Homo sapiens: one gene and its partners. The protein of the gene in region 3 interacts with the protein of the main gene of each other region in a biochemical or structural test. Each region holds a gene or a part of one and is shown on either strand. Other genes may lie near its edges.

Region 1 (4,936 bases), on a different chromosome or scaffold from region 3:
TGCAGATAGTCCGGAGTCCATCACAGGCCATGGGCTCGATGACAGTGCGTACCATATCATCTCTGTCTTTATTCTTGAATGGCACTGCTTCCCCTTTCCGGTCCAGGATTCGATTACACCTGGGGAGGCGCACAGTAAGAACGCGGTGTCTCCCTTCCCACTCAATACGTTTCTACAATCATTGACAGGTATTTTGGCAACTCTGTATTATTCCTAAAGACATTGCTCCAAGTGTGGCCAAACATTTCCTTCATTCATCACCCAGCTGAGTCCCTCTTTCCAAGGTAGGTGGGCTGTGGATGGAGTTAAGGTCTAGATATATAGAGAGTGGGATTCTCCCATGTCATCTGTTCTTACCCATATGTGAATGCAATGCAAGTCATTTGTGAATCACCTGCTCTTTTGAACTTCTTGAAGGCAGAGAGACTTTTTCAATCCGAGTATTTAGAATAGTGCTCACTGTGTGGTGCTGGTGGTTTGGGGGAGGTTTCCTATACAAGAATGTGCTGATTAAAAGAAGGTGGCTAAAGCCATGTTGGAGCACTGGTTAATTCAGCCCTACTTAGGTATAGTGCCAACTTTTGATGAACTATGGGTAATTTATTAATAGTCACTTTTTTTTTTTTGTAATGGAGTCTCACTCTGTCACCCAGGCTGGAGTGCAGTGGTGCGATCTCAGCTCACTGCAACCTCTGCCTTCTGGGTTCAAGCGATTCTCCTGCCTCAGCCTCCTGAGTAGCTGGGATTACAGGCACGCACCACCATGCCTGGCTAATTTTTGTATTTTTTTTTAGTAGAGACAGGGTTTCACCATGTTGGTCGGGCTGGTTTCGAACTCCTGACCTCGTGTTCTGCCTGCCTCGGCCTCCCAAAGTGCTGGGATTACAGGCGTGAGCCACTGCGCCTGGCCGAATAGTCACTTTTAAAGTTATGTAAATTCCCTGTAATCAGAAATGGGAATGGGAAGGAAAGAGAAGGAAAAGAGAACACAGAACAAACGTTTCTAGTACTTGTTATGTATAAGGCATTTTACATACATTGAATCATTTAGTTACAGTGAGGGGGTAGTACTTTTAGGAGCTGAGTATGGCTATCTCTGTTTTCAGATTAGGAAATGGAAACTTAGGATCGTCCAGGTCTGAATCCTGGCTGTGCCACTATTAGCTGTATCACCTTGAGTGAGATACTTAACTTCCTTATATCTCTGTTTTCTCATCTGTAAAACAGGGATAATCATAGTACCCACCTTACTGAGTTGTGAGGATTAAATACAACAAGCCACCTTAAGCACTTAAAAAACATGCGTGGCCTGAGTAGACGCTTGGATATTAGTTATTATGTCACCACCTGGCTGGAGGGCTCCCTCATTCACATGGGTTCAGTGTGGGGTGTGCACCCATGCCTTCCTGAGGAGAGGATCTTGAAGGGAAGCAGAGTGGTCGGGGGTGCTCACTTGCGCAAGATGATCTCAGAGGCGCCCTTGCTGTACATACGGAAGCCACCGTTGGGATTCCTGATGACGGTGCTCATTGACTTGCGCACTGAGTTAAAGGTGTACACCTTGTAGAGCTTCTCCTCGGGCACTTCATTACGCACAGCCTGATAATCCTGCTTCAGATCTGTGACAAAGCCTAGCAGAGCACACTCGGTCTTGTTGCCCACCTGCCGAGGCAGGCCTCCCTCCTTCTCTGGAGGCTGGGAGAAGAAATATACACAGCACTATTGAGTAAGATGCCTTGACAAGGCAGAGAACTTAGGGAGAAAGAACTCATTTACAAAGCCTTCACATTATATACCTGGAGCTCATAGGGGAAATAACATTTTTTTTTTTCTTTTTTGGAGATGGAGTCTCGCTCTGTTGCCCAGCCTGGAGTGCAGTGGCACGACCTTGGCTCACTGCAACCTCCACCTCCCAGGTTCAAGTGATTCTTCTGCCTCAGCCTCCTGAGTAGCAGGGACTACAGGTACCTGCCACCATGCCTAGCTAATTTTTGTATTTTTAGTAGAGACCGGGTTTCACCATGTTGGCCAGGCTGGTCTTGAACTCCTGACCTCAGGTGATCTGCCCACCTCAACCTCCCAAAATGTTGGGATTACAGGCATGAGCCACAGCACCTGGCATCTTTTTTCTTTTTCTTTTTGACATAGCACCTTGCTCTGTTGCCCAGGCTTGACTGCAGTGGTGTGATCTCAGCTCACTGCAGACTTGACCTCTTAGGCTCAAGTGATCCTCCCACCTCAGCTTCTGGAGTAGCTGGGACTACAGGTGCGCAACCATGCCTGGCTAATTTTGTTTATTTTTGTAGAGATGAGGTCTCACAATATTGCTCAGGCTGGTCTCGAACTCCTGGGCTCAAGCGATCTTACCATTTTGGCTTCCCAAAGTGCTGGGATTACAGAAGTGAGCCACTATGCCTAGCCTGTTGTTTTTCAAGGGTAGGCAGAGAGGGGTCAGTGGTAACCGTGATCCTTGTGCCATCCAGGGCTTAGGGATTTTGTAGTTTGCTCTAGTGGTAGTGCTGGTGTCTCGCCTTGTGTGGGTCTTATTCTAATACACTATGCTTGTTTCTAGAAAGTGAGTAATTTACTTCTGATAAGCCCAATTCTACTTTGGGTTACTTTCTACTTTCCCTCCTTAGAGACATTGCTTTTACATGCTAATTGGGAGGGTATTTCCTGGCCATAGATTCTTACAGGCCCTTACCTCCAACCCTCCATTGACTCCCAGGGATTTTTCTGTAGTCTCACCCAAACATGTTCACTCCAGCGTGAGAAATGGGATGTGGGATGGCAATTTAGGCAGTGTAAACAATAAGGGGGTTCATTTCAGAGAAAATGGATGTTCCCTTCCAACCACCCACTCTAAGTGTCTACGCAAAGGAAATGCTTACCAGAATCTTGGAGGTATAAGCACTGTTGATAGAAATGCCATTGACAATGAGGTCCAGGACTTTGGGCAGGAAGACATCAGGGCTTGGGATTTGACGGTAATGGATGCCCCCAATATAAGCTTGTACCACAGTCATGCGGTTCATGGTCAACGTGCCTGTCTTATCAGAGCAGATGGCGGTGGCGTTGCCCATGGTCTCACAAGCATCCAAGTGCCGTACTAGGTTATTGTCTTTCATCATTTTCTACAAAGGAGAAGAGAAAAGACTTGAGAGGGGGACTAACTGGACTCTCCTAAATCTAGGTCAAAGGCCATTTCCTAGCCAACATCTCTCCACATTTCATCTTCCAGTCCCACACAAAAATCCAAGATACTGACTGGGTGCAGTGATTCATGCCTGTAATTTCAGTACTTCGGGAGGCTGAGACGGGCAGATCACCTGAGGTCAGAAGTTCAAGACCAGCCTGGCCAACATGGTGAAACCCTGTCTCTGTAAAAGATACAAAAAGTAACTGGGCATGGTGGTGCACACCTGTAATCCCAGCTACTTGGGAGGCTGAGGCACGAGAATCACTTGAACCCGGGAGGCGGAGGTTGCATCATTGCATTCCAGCCTGGGTGACAGAATGAGACTCTGTCTTAAAAAAAAAAAAAAATCCAAGATACCATTTTTGTCATTCTCTTAAGATTCTGCTGGGTCATTTCAACATTGATGCATCTGACAGAGATGGTCCTTCCATAATACCAGGGACTTCTGCTCTTGTGAGGCACCAGCCAAAGTTTATAGATGATAGAATGGCTTATCTTTTCACTAAAGGTTACATGGTACCCTTCTCTCCCATCTCTATCCTAAAGGAAGAGATAGGATTGTTCTAGTCTCACCTTCACAGAGTAGGCCAGTGAGATGGTGACAGCCAGAGGCAGCCCCTCTGGCACAGCCACCACCAGTACAGTGATGCCGATGATGAAGAACTTGACAAAGTACTGGATGTAGATGGGAGTACACTCAGGGAGCCATGGTCTGCGATTTATCACAAAGTTGTCAATCACAAAGTATAGAATCAGGATGAAAACCGTGAGAGCAGACATGAGCAGACCTGTCCAGAGAAACAAGTCATATGAACCCAGGCTGGAGGGCAGTCCTAGGGCCCTAGCCAGAGATAGATTGGCATCAGTTGTAGCCTTTGTTGCCAATTATTAAAACCACCATCGCCAGGAAGACTTACTAAAATCCCCCCCATTCTCTGTTGCTTGTACATTATAGCATAGGGAACAGACAGTGGTTTCGTATTTCAAAGACACAGGTTCTATTCTCAGCACTGCACTAACTTGACTTGTGGCTTTGGACAAGTCATTGACCCTCTCTGGGCCTGTTTCCTAGATCAAATTCCTCATTCATAAATCAGGGGGTTGATCTGTTTCCTGAAACAGCTTTCTATGATCCTATTCCACGCCCACCCTCTCCCTGCGATTCATAATGTCATGACTGTACTTGTCCATTTCATAGTAGTTTATCAATTTTGACTTCTCCTCTACTAACCTCTGAATGTTGGACAATTCACACCTTGTTTACAACAATGCCTCTATGGTGCTAGTGTATCACCTGCATGACTAACTCTTAGAACAGTGCTTCCCAAGATTTCTCTTGTCACGGCACACATAGAAGATGCCAATAATAGTAAATACTTATGTGGGCACCTGCTGTGGGCCAGGCAAGCACTTCACAACCCTGTGAAATAGGTCATTATTATTACCGCCTTTTTAAAGATGAGGAAATGAAAGTACTGGGAAGTCTTTGGTATGGCCCATTGGTAGAGTAACCAAACCATCCTGAGACTACTGAACAGTTTCCAGGGATGTGGGGCTTTGCTAAAATTGAGAAAATCCCAAGCAAACTGGGATGGTTGGTTACCCTACACATTACAGTACGTGAAAGAATCTGCTCAAGGTCAAAACCGACTGGCTTAGGGGTTCTGATTGCCATGGGTGCTGCCTGGATGCTTTGAGGGCTGATGGAATCAATATCTGGGGACAACTGTCCCTAAC
Region 2 (4,936 bases), on a different chromosome or scaffold from region 3:
GCATTTGGGCTGGGGCCAGTTGATACCTTGGAACATAGTGCTGAAATGCCAAGGCCATTACAGCATTACTTTAGCCACTGTTGACTGACCTCCAGCCTGTACTGTGTTACATGCTTCACATGCATAATCTCATTTAATCCTCTCAACAGCCCTGTAGGAGAGGACTGCTGTACCCATTTTACAGATGACAAGGCTAAGTAAACAGCAGCACTGCAATTTCACCAAGTACAATTCTAACTGGTACAGTGCCACCTATCTGTTCACTGATTTCTTTATTCATTCATTTGCTCTTCTACTTAACAAACATTCTACAGGTCAGTAACACAGCAGGCCCTAAGAATACCAGTGCACACCTGCTAATTTTGCAGAGAAGGGGAAGTTTGACCAATATCACTCAGGACAGTGTTTTCAAAACCCAAACTTGTTCACCTGAAGATTAGTCAAAAAGAATAAGGTGCCAGGACAATCCTACCAGTTCACTAAATAAGCCTCATGACAAAGGCATAATGGACAATGAGTCAACAACTTCAGGTGAAAAGCAACAAGCAATGAACACTTTTTAAATCTTCCATTTACATTCTTCATAAAGCTTTCAGGAGAGCCGATACCTATAAGAAATACCTAGAAACCGAGGCGGGCGGATCACAAGGTCAGATCGAGACCATCCTGGCCAACAAGGTGAAACCCCGTCTCTACTAAAAATACAAAAATTAGCCAGGCGTGGTGGTGGGCGCCTGTAGTCTCAGCTACTCGGGAGGCTGAGGCAGGAGAGTGGCGTGAACCCACAAGGCGGAGCTTGCAGTGAGCCGAGATGGCACCACTGCATTCCAGCCTGGGTGACAGAACGAGACTCCGTCTCAAAAAAAAAAAAAGAAATACCTAGAAATGAAAAACATTTCCACTGCAGGAAGAAACTTTAATTTAAAACCAATTGTGAGAAACTAAAGTCATCAACTCTAATGGTGGCTATAAAATGTAAACTGGTGACGTAGTTACTCCCAAGAATGTTAAATGCTCTTAAAGCTCAGCTTCTCATGCACCAACCGACCAAATGTCCAGCGCTGAGTCACTGAAAAGTGAGTGTAGAGAACCCCACCAACCTGTAGGTTTCCCCAAAAGGAAAAGTGTAATAATGAACAACTTACATACCCTTGTCTGTGAGATTTTTTCGAATGACTTGAATAGTAAGAATATCCAGAATAAGTGGATTCGGTATCCATAGCAATGGAGGGCTTGCGCTTGAGGAAGGAGCAGGTACTGTTTCTCCTTAGAGGTAGAAAATTTCACCTACCAGACTCCTAAAACCTCAAGGAGTCTGGAAATTAGAAGAGGAGCCACTCTTCAACAGGAACAAATTCTGGGAAAGAGGGGGAAAAAAAAAGACATTAATCTTCAGAGCCAACCTTAATGGGGCTGAAAGATAAATGACAAAGCCACACCTCCTCTCTGGGGTCTCTATCATGGAACAAGCGAGTGAGGGTGAAGCAACTGAACTGTAAATGCTCCACCCATGCAGCAACCAGTTTTCCCAGGTGTCTGGGAGGGAGACAGGATAGGCGCTGAGCAAGCTGAACCCCTACCACAGCAGCAGGAAAATGGGAGGCACTTGTCCACGTCCTCAGGATGACCTGACCCCTGCTCACTGGCTTTAGGAGGTGGCTTTCCACATCTGCGACCCTCCACACAATGCCCAGCCCCCCACTGCCAGTTTGCTGGTTAAAAAAACAATACCCAGCGAAGTTGCTTTTAAGGGATTTGGTCATAATTTCCAAAAGTCAATTAAAAAAAAAAAAGATCTTCAATCTTTTTGATCTAGGATCCGAATTTCTGGGAATTTATCTGAGGGAACTGATTTCTTTTTTAAAGAAAAATTATTGTGGTCTCATTGTCTATAAATAATAAAATGCTAGAAACAATCTGAATGCCCCCAGAATACAGGAATAGGTAAGGAAAACATGGTTCATCCACCAGAAAAGTATCACATATGTTTAAAATGATCATTATAAAGAATAGAAACTCTTATAATGATGAATTTTAAAAGCAGGATACAGTATTGTTGATACACAGTGAACCAACATTACAGTTACAATTGTATAAAATTGCTTATGTAAGGACAAAGATTTTTAAAAGGAGACACAGAAAATGAAAGCAGGCAATTTATTATTTGCAGGCTCCTGGGTCTTCTCCCACATTTTCATTAGATATTGCTTTGCAATAAAAATAAATTGGAAACATTTCCAAGTACATTCCTGAGCTCCCACATGCTAAAATTTTTACTTCTAGAAAACCGAGATCCACAAGTTCTGTCTCTTTCTGCACCCCTCACCCCAGAGCTAGTCTCAGCTCAACAGGGTTCCTTCTTCCAGCCGCTGGAAGCTGAAACTGCAAACACAGCCAGTGAGATAAGTGTGAAGAAAAAACAAAGGAGCTGTAAATGCCATACCCTAACCCTCCTGGGAGGAGGCCAAGTTTCCCTGACCCCAGCAACAACACATAAGTCTGGAGGGAATCAGGTCAGCACAAATTGCCATACACCACCAATACAGCCCCCACAGCCTCTAATCCCAGTTAGGGTGTATTTACCCTTACCATTCATTCTTCCTGGGAGTCAGGTACGATCACTTCCAAGGTCTGCCACCCAGGGCCAGCCTCCTTTGTCCCTGATGCCCTGACTTACCATTTCACTTCTCCTCTGCCATCAGGAGCCCAAGGCTAGCCCTGGGGAAACCTGAGTTCTAGTCTGAGCCCAGCCACTGTTTAGTACAACCTGGGATAAGCCACTTGCTTTCTTATGCCTCAGTTTCCTCATCTGTTAAACAGGGTAAACCAACCAGCCACCGACCTCACAGGTAGATCTGAAAATATAAGCAGACACAGTTTCCAAAGGTGGGTTCCAATCTCGGGTTTTACTCACTTATTAGCTATCAGGCCCCAGTCAAAATTAGTAAACCTCTTTGAACATGTAACTGTAAAATGCAAATATCAGGGTTGCCGTGAAGACCAAATGAGCTAACAACTATGAAGGCACCCAGCGCGAGCTCCAGATGTGCTAGGTAAACGAAAGTCACTGTCTATCAGCACTCTCTTTGCGGGTTCCGAAATGCTTGTTCCTCTGTCTTTTTAATGAGAGAAATGCTTGGAAAGAAGCAGAGCAGAGTCTCTGTGCCGGCCTTCCTGCCACAAGGCTCACCTGCAGTCAGACAGAACGGAGCACACATCTCAGTCCGCTGCCTACTAACTAGCTGTACACCTGGGCAAAGCAGTTTCTCCTTGGAGCCTCAGAGACTTCCCAATCCATAAAAAGGAAGCAAGGCAGCCTATTATGGTGGGGGTTTGTGGGGGGAGGTAGCTGTAAAGATTAAATGTGAAAACACAGCAGGCCTTTTTTAAATGCTAAGTTTTGCTCCTGGACTTACCCTACTTTCCTAGAAGACTTCAAGGGCTGAGTCATCTTTTTTTCTGCCTACTGTCTCCACCATTTTCACTAGCAATTTCAATCAGCTTTCAACACCTCAGTCTCACTTCCTTTCTGCCCTGGGCTTTGCTGTTTTCTCACCTGCTTCATAACAGGCAGACGTCAACATTAGGATGTGCTTCGAAGATCTCCAGCCCTGAGTGAACTGAGATCCTCCCTGAAAGCCCCTCACCCAGCCTCTGCTGATCTGCAGATTCAAATGTCCAGTTCCCTGGCCCAGAACACCGATTTCCCACTCTCTTCTAGATTCATAATTAACCCTTCACAACTCCTACACTCTGCCTTGCAACCCATAACTCTGGATTCCCCATTCCATCCCAACTTCCAGCTACTTTTTGCTAAATGCTGCTGGAGTGTCTCAGAGGCAGGTGGCCCAGGCCCCGCAGATGTGGGCAGATCCAGCTTGGTGCTTCCTAGCTGTGACATCAGGGGGCAAATGTTTGCCTCTCTGAGCTTATCCAACCCTGCCCCATAAAAATGAGGTCATTTAATACTCTCTCTTCCCAGGGTTCTTGTGAGGATTAAATGAAACTGCAAAGGTAAAGTCTCTGGCACATGGTAACCCAAGTTTTATTCCCTTCCCCCTCTGCCAGAGGACTTCATTCCTTGTCCTCATTGAAAACTTGTGGCCATTCATTAAGACAACTCCAGGCTTGTCCCTCAAAGGAAACCATGGGTCCCAACTGCCCTCCAGGGAAAGGCTTTATCTAACTCTACCAACCACCCTAGTCTGGTTTCCCTCCCATGGTTCCTTCCTGTACTTACCAAAGGAGTGGTCTATACATGCTGTCACTCCCTCCTTCTCCACTTTCAGTCCAAATCTCCATCCACAACACTCCACTGAAACAACTCAAAGTTGGCCAAGGATTGCTATGAGCCAAGTAACATCCTTGTCCTCCTCCCCCAGTGCTTTTTATTTCATTTATTAGTCCATCCACCTCCATATTAAGTGGCACCTACAAGACCATGCTAGGCAATGCTAGGGCACAGCAATGACAAAGGCATGCTGCCTGCCCTAGCAGAGTTTCTCTGCAGCTGGCTAGCCTCCAATTTGATGCCGCTTATGTTACTACTTCTCCTCTAACACTCCCTCTCCTCTCCCCTCATCACGTTATCCCTTGACATTCAAAACTCTTCTCAGTCTTCTCCATCCACAGATTTCCTATGGCAGAAGCTCCTTGAACACAGCAACTACGTCTTACCTCCACCCAGGATATTTTGAACATAGCAGGTACCCAACAAATACTTACTGAAAGACTAAATCCCAAGTGCACATTTCCTACTGAGATTCCTCTTGCTCCCCTTGGGAATACCATCATCCCTCTCATAGGTGCTCTCCAGTATCCTGTCCTGTTCTTCCCAATTCCTCAGCTAAAGCAATACCCTCATCCTAAGGATCTAACCCTGTGCCACCTTCAACACCCTCTCTGATCCTCCCTTCACTCTACTGATTCACAGCCA
Region 3 (4,936 bases):
TCATTGCTATTCCTGCCCCAAATGCAGAACCTAAATCGAATTATGAGAAAACATCAGATAAATCCAAATTGAGGGAGGGACATTTTATAAAAGAATGGGTCTTTGGCCGGGTGCAGTGGCTCACGCCTGTAGTCCCACCACTTTGGGAGGTCAAGGTGAAGGTGGGCGGATTGGATGAGTTTGAGACCAGCCTGGGCAACATGGCGAAATCCTGTCTCTACAAAAAATACAAAAATTAGCTGGGCATGTTGGCTGTAGCCTGTAGTCCCAGCTCCTTGGGAGGCTGAGGTGGGAGGATCACTTGAGCCTGGGAGGTGGAGGTTCCAGTGAACTGAGATCGCACCATTGCACTCCAGCCTGGGTGACAGAGTGAGACCCTGGCTCAAAAAAAAACAAAAGACAAAAAACAAAACGAAACAAAAAACAAAACGAAACAAAAAACAACAAAAAATCCCCCCTAGTGTTTTTACTCTTAAAAAATGTCAGTCAGGGTCATGAATAACAAGACTTGGGAACGATTTCAGATTAAAGAACATTAAGGATGTGATAATCCAATACAGCACGTGAGCCTCCGCTGGATCCTGCACCAGAACAGAAAAACCATTTTTTTCCATTTTGCTCTAAAGAGATTAGAAGAATAGTGAAATACTAATAAGATCTATAGTTAGATGAGACATATAATTATTAAATTTCCTGATTTTGATAATAAAACTATGATTCTATAAGGGAATATCCCTGTTTTTTAGAAAATACACACTGAAATATTTAGAAGTAAAGGGACATCTACCTGAAACTTACTCTCAAGTGTATCAGAAAAAAACCTATAAATGTGGTAAAATGTTAACACTTGAGGAATTTGGGTGAAGGGTACATGAAACTCCCTGTACTATTCTTGTAACTTCTATTTAAGTCTGAAATTAGTTTGAAAAAAATAAGAAAGCACAAGGTTTAAAAACCATGACCCTTACTGATACTCAGTGTGAATGTCAAATTTAGGCTGATATTATTTCAAACAAACAAGTAACAACAACAAAAATGTCCAAAGACTTGAGGAGGAAGTTAAAGGACAAGGCGAGTAAAATAAGAATATTGGGGAGTTGCTACCTACTTTTTTTTTTTTTAAACAAATAGTATTTCAAAACGGATCAAAGGGCAACTAATCATTAAAAAGGGGCCAAGACTACACAATAGGGAAAGGCTAGTGTCTTAAATAAATGGTGCTGGAAAATCTGGATATCCACATGCAAGAGAACGAAACTAAACCCTTATCTTATACAAAATTAACTTGAAATAGACTAAAGACTTAAATGTAAAACCAGAACCATAAAACTCCTAGAAGAAAACACAGGGAAAAAAGCGCCTTCACACTGGTCTTGGATGATTTTTTGGAAAGCACAGGCAGCAAAATAAAAAATCATCAAGTGGGATATTAAATAAAAAATCTACACAGCAAAGGAACAATCAACAAAATGAAAAGGCAACCTATGGAAGAGGAGAAAATATTTCCAAACATGCAATTGGTAAGGGGTTAATATCCAAAATATATAAGAAAATCATTAGCAAAATACCAAATAATCCATTTAAAAAATGGGCAAAGGACTGGAATCGACATTTTTCCAAAGAAGACATACAGATGGCCAGCAGGTATCAGTAAAAGTGCTCAACCTCATTAATCAGAGCAACAGAAACCAAAACCATAATGAGGCTGGGTGCAGTGGCTCACGCCTGCCATCCTAACACTTTGGGAGGCTGAGACGGGCAGATCACTTGAGGCCAGGAGTTTGAGACCAGTCTGACCAACATGGCAAAACCCTGTCTCTACTAAAAATACAAAAATTAGCCGGGTGTGGTGGCATGTGCCTGTAATCCCAGCTATTCAGGAGGCTGAGGCATGAGAATCGCTTGAACCCAGGAGGCAGAGGTTGCAGTGAGCTGAGATCATGCCACTGTACTCCAGCCTGGGTGACAGAGCAAGACTCTGTCACAAACACACACGCAAACCATAATGAAATATCACCTTAGACCTGTGTGGATGGCTGTTATCAAAAAGATAAGAGATAACAAGTAGGCAATGGTATGAAGAAAAGGGAACCCTGTACACTGTTGGTGGGAATGTAAATGAGTAAAGCCATCACAGAAAATAGTGTGGACATTCCTCAAGAAATTATTATTACTATTATTATTTTTGAGACAGAGTTTCACTCTTGTTGCCCAGGCTGGAGTGCAATTGTGCGATCTTGGCTCACTGCAACCTCCGCTTCCCAGGTTCAAGCAATTCTCCTGCCTCAACCTTCCAAGTAGTTGGGATTACAGGCATGCACCACCACGCCCGGCTAATTTTGTATTTTTAGTAGAGAAAAGGGGTTTCGCCATGTTGGTCAGGCTGGTCTCGGACTCCTGACCTCAGGGGACCTGCCCACCTGGGCCTCCAAAAATGCTGGGATTACAGGCATGAACCACTGTGCCCAGCCACCTCAAAAAATTAAAAACTGAGTTATTATATGATCTAGCAATCCCACTACTCGATATATATACAAAGGAAAGGAAATTGGGCCAGGCGTGGTGGCTCACACCTGTAATTCCAGCACTCTGGGAGGCTGAAGCAGGCGGATCACTTGAGGTCAGGAGTTTGAGACCAGCACGGCCAACCCTGTAACCCTGTCTCTACTAAAAATACAAAAATTAGCTGGGTGTGGTGGCATGTGCCTCTAGTCCCTGCTACTTGGGAGGCTAAGGCAGGAGAATCAACAGAACCCAGGAGGCGATGGTTGCAGCAAGCTGAGATCACACCCGCATTCCAGCCTGGACAACAGAGTGAGACTCTGTCTCAAAACAAAACAATAAAAAACAAAAAGCCAACAACAACAAAAAGAAAACCAAAGGAAAATAAATCAGTATGTTGAAATCTGCACTCCTATGTTCACTGCAACATAATCAACAATAGCCCAGATATGAAAATCACCTAAGAGTCTGTCAAAAGATGAATGAGCCGGGCCCGATGGCTCACGCCTGTAGTCCCGGCACTTTGGGAGGCCAAGGCGGGCGGATCACCTGAGGTCAAGAGTTCGACTAGCCTGACCAACATGGGGAAACCCCATCTCTACTAAAAATACAAAATTAGCTGGGCATGGTGGCACATGCCTGTAATCCCAGCTACTCAGGAGGCTGAGGCAGGAGAATCGCTTGAACCCGGGAGGTTGTGGTGAGCTGAGATCATGCCATTGCACTCCAGCCTGGGCAGCAAGAGCAAAACTCCATCTCCAAAAACAAAAAAGATGAATGAATAAAGAGAATATTGTAGGCCAGGTGCAGTGCACCTATAATCCAAGCACTCTGGGAGGCCGAGGAAGAACGATTGCTTGAGCCTAGGAGTTTGAGACCAGCCTAGGCAACATAGCGAGACCCTGTCTCTACAAAAATAAAAAATTAGCCAGGTGTGGTGTTGCACGCCTGTAGTCCCAGCTACTAAGGAAGCTGAAGAGAGAGAATTGCTTGAGCCCAGGAGGTTGAGGCTGCAGTGAGCCATGATCATGACACTGTACTCCAGCCTGGGCAAGAACAAAACCCTGCCTCAAAAACAAACAAACAAAACCAAAAACAGGCCGGGCACGGTGGCTCACGCCTGTAATCCCAGCAATTTGGGAGGCCGAGTCGGGTGGATCACGAGGTCAGGAGATCAAGACCGTCCTGGCTAACATGGTGAAACCCCATCTCTACTAAAAATACAAAAAATTAGCTGGGCGTGGTGGCAGCTGCCTGTAGTCCCAGCTACTCGGGAGGCTGAGGCAGGAGAATGGCGTGAACACGGAAGGCGGAGGTTGCAGTGAGCCGAGATTGCGCCACTGCACTCCAGCCTGGGCGACAGAGCCAGACTCCATTTCAAAAAAAAACAACAACAAAAAAAACCCCCAAAAAAACCCAACAACAAACAACAACAAATATATATATATATGTATGTATGTATGCATGCATATGGTATATATACAACAATGGAATATTTTATTAGGCCATAAAAATGAAAATCCTATCATCTGCAACAACCAACATGAGTGAATGTGGAGGACCTTATGCTATATGAAATAAGCCAGACACAGAAAAGCAAATACTGTATTTCATTTATACGTGGAATCTAAAAAAGTAGAACTCATAGAAACAGAGAGGTGGTTTCCAGGGACTGCAGAGTAGAAGAGATGGGGAGATGTTAGTGAAAGGGCACAAACTTTCAGTTTTAACATGAGTAAATTCTGGGGATCTAATATACAGCAGTAGTGACTATTGTTAATAAAGAGTAGATCTTAAGAGTCTTCCCTACACACACAAAATGGTAACTGTGTGGTTAAAGACATGTTAATTTGATTGTGTTAATCAACTTACAATGTACACATTTATCAAATCACATTATATGCCTTGAATATATACGAATTTTGTCAATTATACCTCAACATGGCTAGAGAAAATGGATCAAAATTTATAAAGGATAAGAGAAAAATCAGAGTTTCATAGAAGAAATGAAATCTAAATCTATTTTTCTCTGGTCAAGTATGAATTATTCCTGTTTTTGTTGTTCTAATCAATAACCTAAGAAACATTAAATTTCAAGATTCCTGGCTGGGCAGGGTGGCTCACCGCTGTAATCCTAGCATTTTGACAGGCTGAGGCAGGTGGATCACCTGAGGTCAGGAGTTCGAGACCAGCCTGACCAACACGGCGAAACCCCATCTCTACTAAAAATACAAAATTAGCTGGGCGTGGTGGCAGGTGCCTGTAATCCCAGCCACTCGGGAGGCTGAGGCAGGAGAATCGCTTGAGCCAGGGAGGCCCCAGCTACTCGGGAGGCTGAGGCAGGAGAATCGCTTGAGCCAGGGAGGCGGAGGTTGCGGTGAGCCGAGTCATACCATTGCACTCCGCTTGGGTGACAGAGCGAAACTCCGTCTCA
Region 4 (3,837 bases), on a different chromosome or scaffold from region 3:
AAGAAAGCCCACTACCGGCAGAGCAGCTTCCCTCATTGCTCTGACCTGATGCCCAGTGGCTCTGAGGAGAAGATCCTGAGGGAGCTGAGTGAGGAGGAGGAAGATGAGGAGGAGGAGGAAGAGGAGGAAGAGGAGGGAAGGTTTTACTATAGTGAAGATGACCATGGTGATGAGTGTTCCTACACGGATCTGCTGCCTCAGGATGAGGGCGGTGGCGGCTACAGTTCAGTCCGCTACAGTGACTGTTGTGAACGTGTGGTGATAAATGTGTCAGGCCTACGCTTTGAGACCCAAATGAAAACTCTGGCCCAGTTTCCAGAGACTTTGTTGGGAGACCCTGAAAAGAGGACTCAGTACTTTGACCCTTTGCGCAATGAGTATTTTTTTGACAGGAACCGCCCCAGCTTTGATGCCATCTTGTATTATTATCAATCAGGAGGCCGCCTGAAGAGGCCAGTCAATGTCCCCTTTGATATCTTCACTGAGGAGGTGAAGTTCTATCAGTTGGGGGAGGAGGCCCTGTTGAAGTTTCGGGAGGACGAGGGCTTTGTGAGAGAAGAGGAAGACAGGGCCCTCCCCGAGAATGAATTTAAAAAGCAGATTTGGCTCCTCTTTGAATATCCAGAGAGCTCCAGTCCTGCAAGGGGCATAGCCATTGTGTCCGTCCTGGTCATCTTAATCTCCATTGTCATCTTTTGCCTGGAAACCTTGCCTGAGTTTAGGGACGACAGGGATCTCGTCATGGCACTGAGTGCTGGCGGGCATGGTGGGTTGTTGAATGATACTTCAGCACCCCATCTGGAGAACTCAGGGCACACAATATTCAATGACCCCTTCTTCATCGTGGAAACAGTCTGTATTGTATGGTTTTCCTTTGAGTTTGTGGTTCGCTGCTTTGCTTGTCCCAGCCAAGCACTCTTCTTCAAAAACATCATGAACATCATTGACATTGTCTCCATTTTGCCTTACTTCATCACACTGGGCACTGACCTGGCCCAGCAACAGGGGGGTGGCAATGGTCAGCAGCAGCAGGCCATGTCCTTTGCCATCCTCAGAATCATTCGTCTGGTCCGAGTATTCCGGATCTTCAAACTCTCCAGGCACTCCAAAGGCCTGCAGATCCTGGGCCACACCCTCAGAGCCAGCATGCGGGAACTGGGCCTTCTGATCTTCTTCCTCTTCATTGGGGTCATCCTCTTTTCTAGTGCTGTGTATTTTGCAGAGGCGGATGAACCTACTACCCATTTCCAAAGCATCCCAGATGCATTTTGGTGGGCTGTGGTGACCATGACAACTGTGGGCTATGGGGACATGAAGCCCATCACTGTAGGGGGCAAGATTGTCGGGTCCCTGTGTGCCATTGCGGGTGTCTTAACCATTGCTTTGCCAGTGCCAGTGATTGTCTCTAACTTTAACTATTTCTACCACAGAGAGACTGAAAATGAGGAACAGACACAGCTAACGCAGAATGCAGTCAGTTGTCCATACCTCCCCTCTAATTTGCTCAAGAAATTTCGGAGCTCTACTTCTTCTTCCCTGGGGGACAAGTCAGAGTATCTAGAGATGGAAGAAGGAGTTAAGGAATCTCTGTGTGCAAAGGAGGAGAAGTGTCAGGGAAAGGGGGATGACAGTGAGACAGATAAAAACAACTGTTCTAATGCAAAGGCTGTGGAGACTGATGTGTGAATCTTTTTCCACCTGCCACTGCTCCCCCCTCAGCATCTCCAAATATATTTATGCATAGAGAGTGCAGTTATGAAAATGAAATATGCAAATGATCCAATGCATACAGTAGTACACTATTTAATGGTTATACATGGCATAATTGTTACTAAACTTGTATTACATATCAAATAAATGATACATCTTGGAGAAGAGGGAGGAATAGGAGCAAATCTATCTTTATATTTTTATTAGAATGCAAGAATTTTGCACATTAACTGGAAAAGATGTTAACAGTAAAGATGGAGAGAGAGAGTGTGTGCGTGTGTGTGTATATGTGTGTGTGTGTGAAGTAAATTGTCAATGTTAGTAATTGTGCAGTGAAGGGAAAAGTTGGCATTTTGAAGTATTTACTATGTAAGAACTAATGAATCTGAGCAGTCATTTATCAGTGCTTTAACAGCATATCGTATGTCTTTGGATTCTGTAGTTGTTTTTTAAAAATTGTAAGAAATACTGTGTAGAGAAAAAAGAAAGTAAATTATTTAATAGACTATAGGTCACAATTTTATCTTGGATTTAATTAAAATTTATTTTTAACTGGAAATTAACTTTTAAAAAGGCTGCAAGGGCCTTTAGAAATTGATTATATTTTGTTATTAATTTTGGGAAGACTTAACAGCAAATGTCTAACATTATAGAATAAGTGAAATTGGAGAATATGTAATAAGTTTTGTTTGCAGGTAACAGGACTGGATTTTTTTTTCTTTGCACTACTTTATATGCTGGAGATTGAGAGAGACTTCAAACTGTGAATGTTTACTAATGTAACAGTTCAATGACAATCATTGGAAGAATGATTTCTTTAGTCTTATTTTATTGTTTTCTTTTCATTGTGTGAGACTAATGATCATGCAGATAACATCACAGGATTCTCTCCTCTTTTAAAATCTAAATAACTGATTGACAAAGGAATTATGAAGTAAAATTTAGCAACTGAATCTTTTGAAATTGGTCTGTTAGAATGATGCTTCTGAAATCATACTATTTTATATATTCTTCTGCCTTTTAACTCCAGAATAATTTAACCAAAGTTAATGCATGCACTGAAAGAATTCTTGAAGAAGATGCCAAGCAGCTACAGTGATTATGGCTTAAAATTTTTCTATTAAATGTGAAACATAAACGCTAGATTTATTAAGTTTATTTTTTTGTGCAGTTATATAAGAACAGAATTTGGGGATTAACCTCAGATTTTAACATTATATTTGCTAAAATGGACATAAGGAAGAATTGTGTCAAACATTTGGTTTCAACATCACCATCATTATTATCTTTATTAAAGGAATTTATGACACATATAACTGCATTTAAGTCATGACAAAGCATTCTAGAATGTGAGATAACAACTAGCGATCAGCCTTGCACTATGAAATCATGAGGTATAGGTTAGAAAACTCAGAATGCATAAGAGGCCTTATTCTACAATGTTTATTTAACTTCTGTTCTTTATAAAATGATTGTCTTGAGCTCTGGTTGGGGGCGGGGGAACAAAACAAAACAAACAACACTGCATACACTATTTCGGCACATAGTGAACTCTGGTAACTGTGAGCTACAAACAAACAAACTGACCTAGAATAGCCTTTCTCAAGCTTTTTAAAATCCAGGCCATCATTTCATAATTACATAAATCCTACCTCTCCTTTAATGGTATTTGAAATTCAAAGTAAATTCAACATTAGGCTTAAAAGTAAAACTGCACCCCCTCTCCACCCTTTCCCCACCATTTGTAGAGAAATACTTTTCTAGAACACCTTTTAGAGAATGAAAACAGCAAGCAGGGCCTTTTATTGAATGTGAAGAACAAAGATCAATAGAAGACAACAGAGAATGATAAAACAAGAAAATGTCATCTTACAATAAGATTTCAAAGATAATGTTTTAATACATTTTAGATTTGGGGCAAAAATGTAACAAGCATTAGAGAAGGGGTAAGGCTATTTGGACAGGCTGTAAGTCATTTGGAAATGTCACTTAACATTTCTGCACCCAAATTTCGTGATTGGTTAAAAAGAGGGCAAATGAAGCACATTACGTTACAGAGTTATGCAAAACAAATGAGAACATGCGAAAACTCTGAAATGTTGACTTCCATACAAATGCCTGATGTTA

The links. Proteins that work in one complex are often made in the same cells at the same time.
Region 1: the proteins of DLG1 (region 3) and ATP2B4 form a complex in vitro, tested with the Homo sapiens proteins (2 studies listed by BioGRID and IntAct, with this or other methods).
Region 2: the proteins of DLG1 (region 3) and VANGL1 interact in a test that uses a peptide from one of them, tested with the Homo sapiens proteins (2 studies listed by IntAct, with this or other methods).
Region 4: the proteins of DLG1 (region 3) and KCNA4 interact in a biophysical measurement, tested with the Homo sapiens proteins (2 studies listed by IntAct, with this or other methods).

The regions. Positions count from the first base shown.
Region 1 is NC_000001.11:203,706,060-203,710,995, reverse strand, and holds part of ATP2B4 (plasma membrane calcium-transporting ATPase 4), read right to left. Parts: intron 3,988-4,936; coding exon 3,773-3,987; intron 3,135-3,772; coding exon 2,892-3,134; intron 1,696-2,891; coding exon 1,454-1,695; intron 120-1,453; coding exon 1-119. UniProt on the Homo sapiens protein: Calcium/calmodulin-regulated and magnesium-dependent enzyme that catalyzes the hydrolysis of ATP coupled with the transport of calcium out of the cell. By regulating sperm cell calcium homeostasis, may play a role in sperm motility.
Region 2 is NC_000001.11:115,647,698-115,652,633, reverse strand, and holds part of VANGL1 (vang-like protein 1), read right to left. Parts: intron 1,358-4,936; 5' UTR 1,221-1,357; coding exon 1,150-1,220; intron 1-1,149.
Region 3 is NC_000003.12:197,046,486-197,051,421, forward strand, and holds part of DLG1 (disks large homolog 1), read right to left. Parts: intron 1-4,936. UniProt on the Homo sapiens protein: Essential multidomain scaffolding protein required for normal development. Recruits channels, receptors and signaling molecules to discrete plasma membrane domains in polarized cells.
Region 4 is NC_000011.10:30,008,566-30,012,402, reverse strand, and holds the end of KCNA4 (potassium voltage-gated channel subfamily A member 4), read left to right. Parts: coding exon 1-1,686; 3' UTR 1,687-2,673; downstream 2,674-3,837. UniProt on the Homo sapiens protein: Voltage-gated potassium channel that mediates transmembrane potassium transport in excitable membranes. Forms tetrameric potassium-selective channels through which potassium ions pass in accordance with their electrochemical gradient.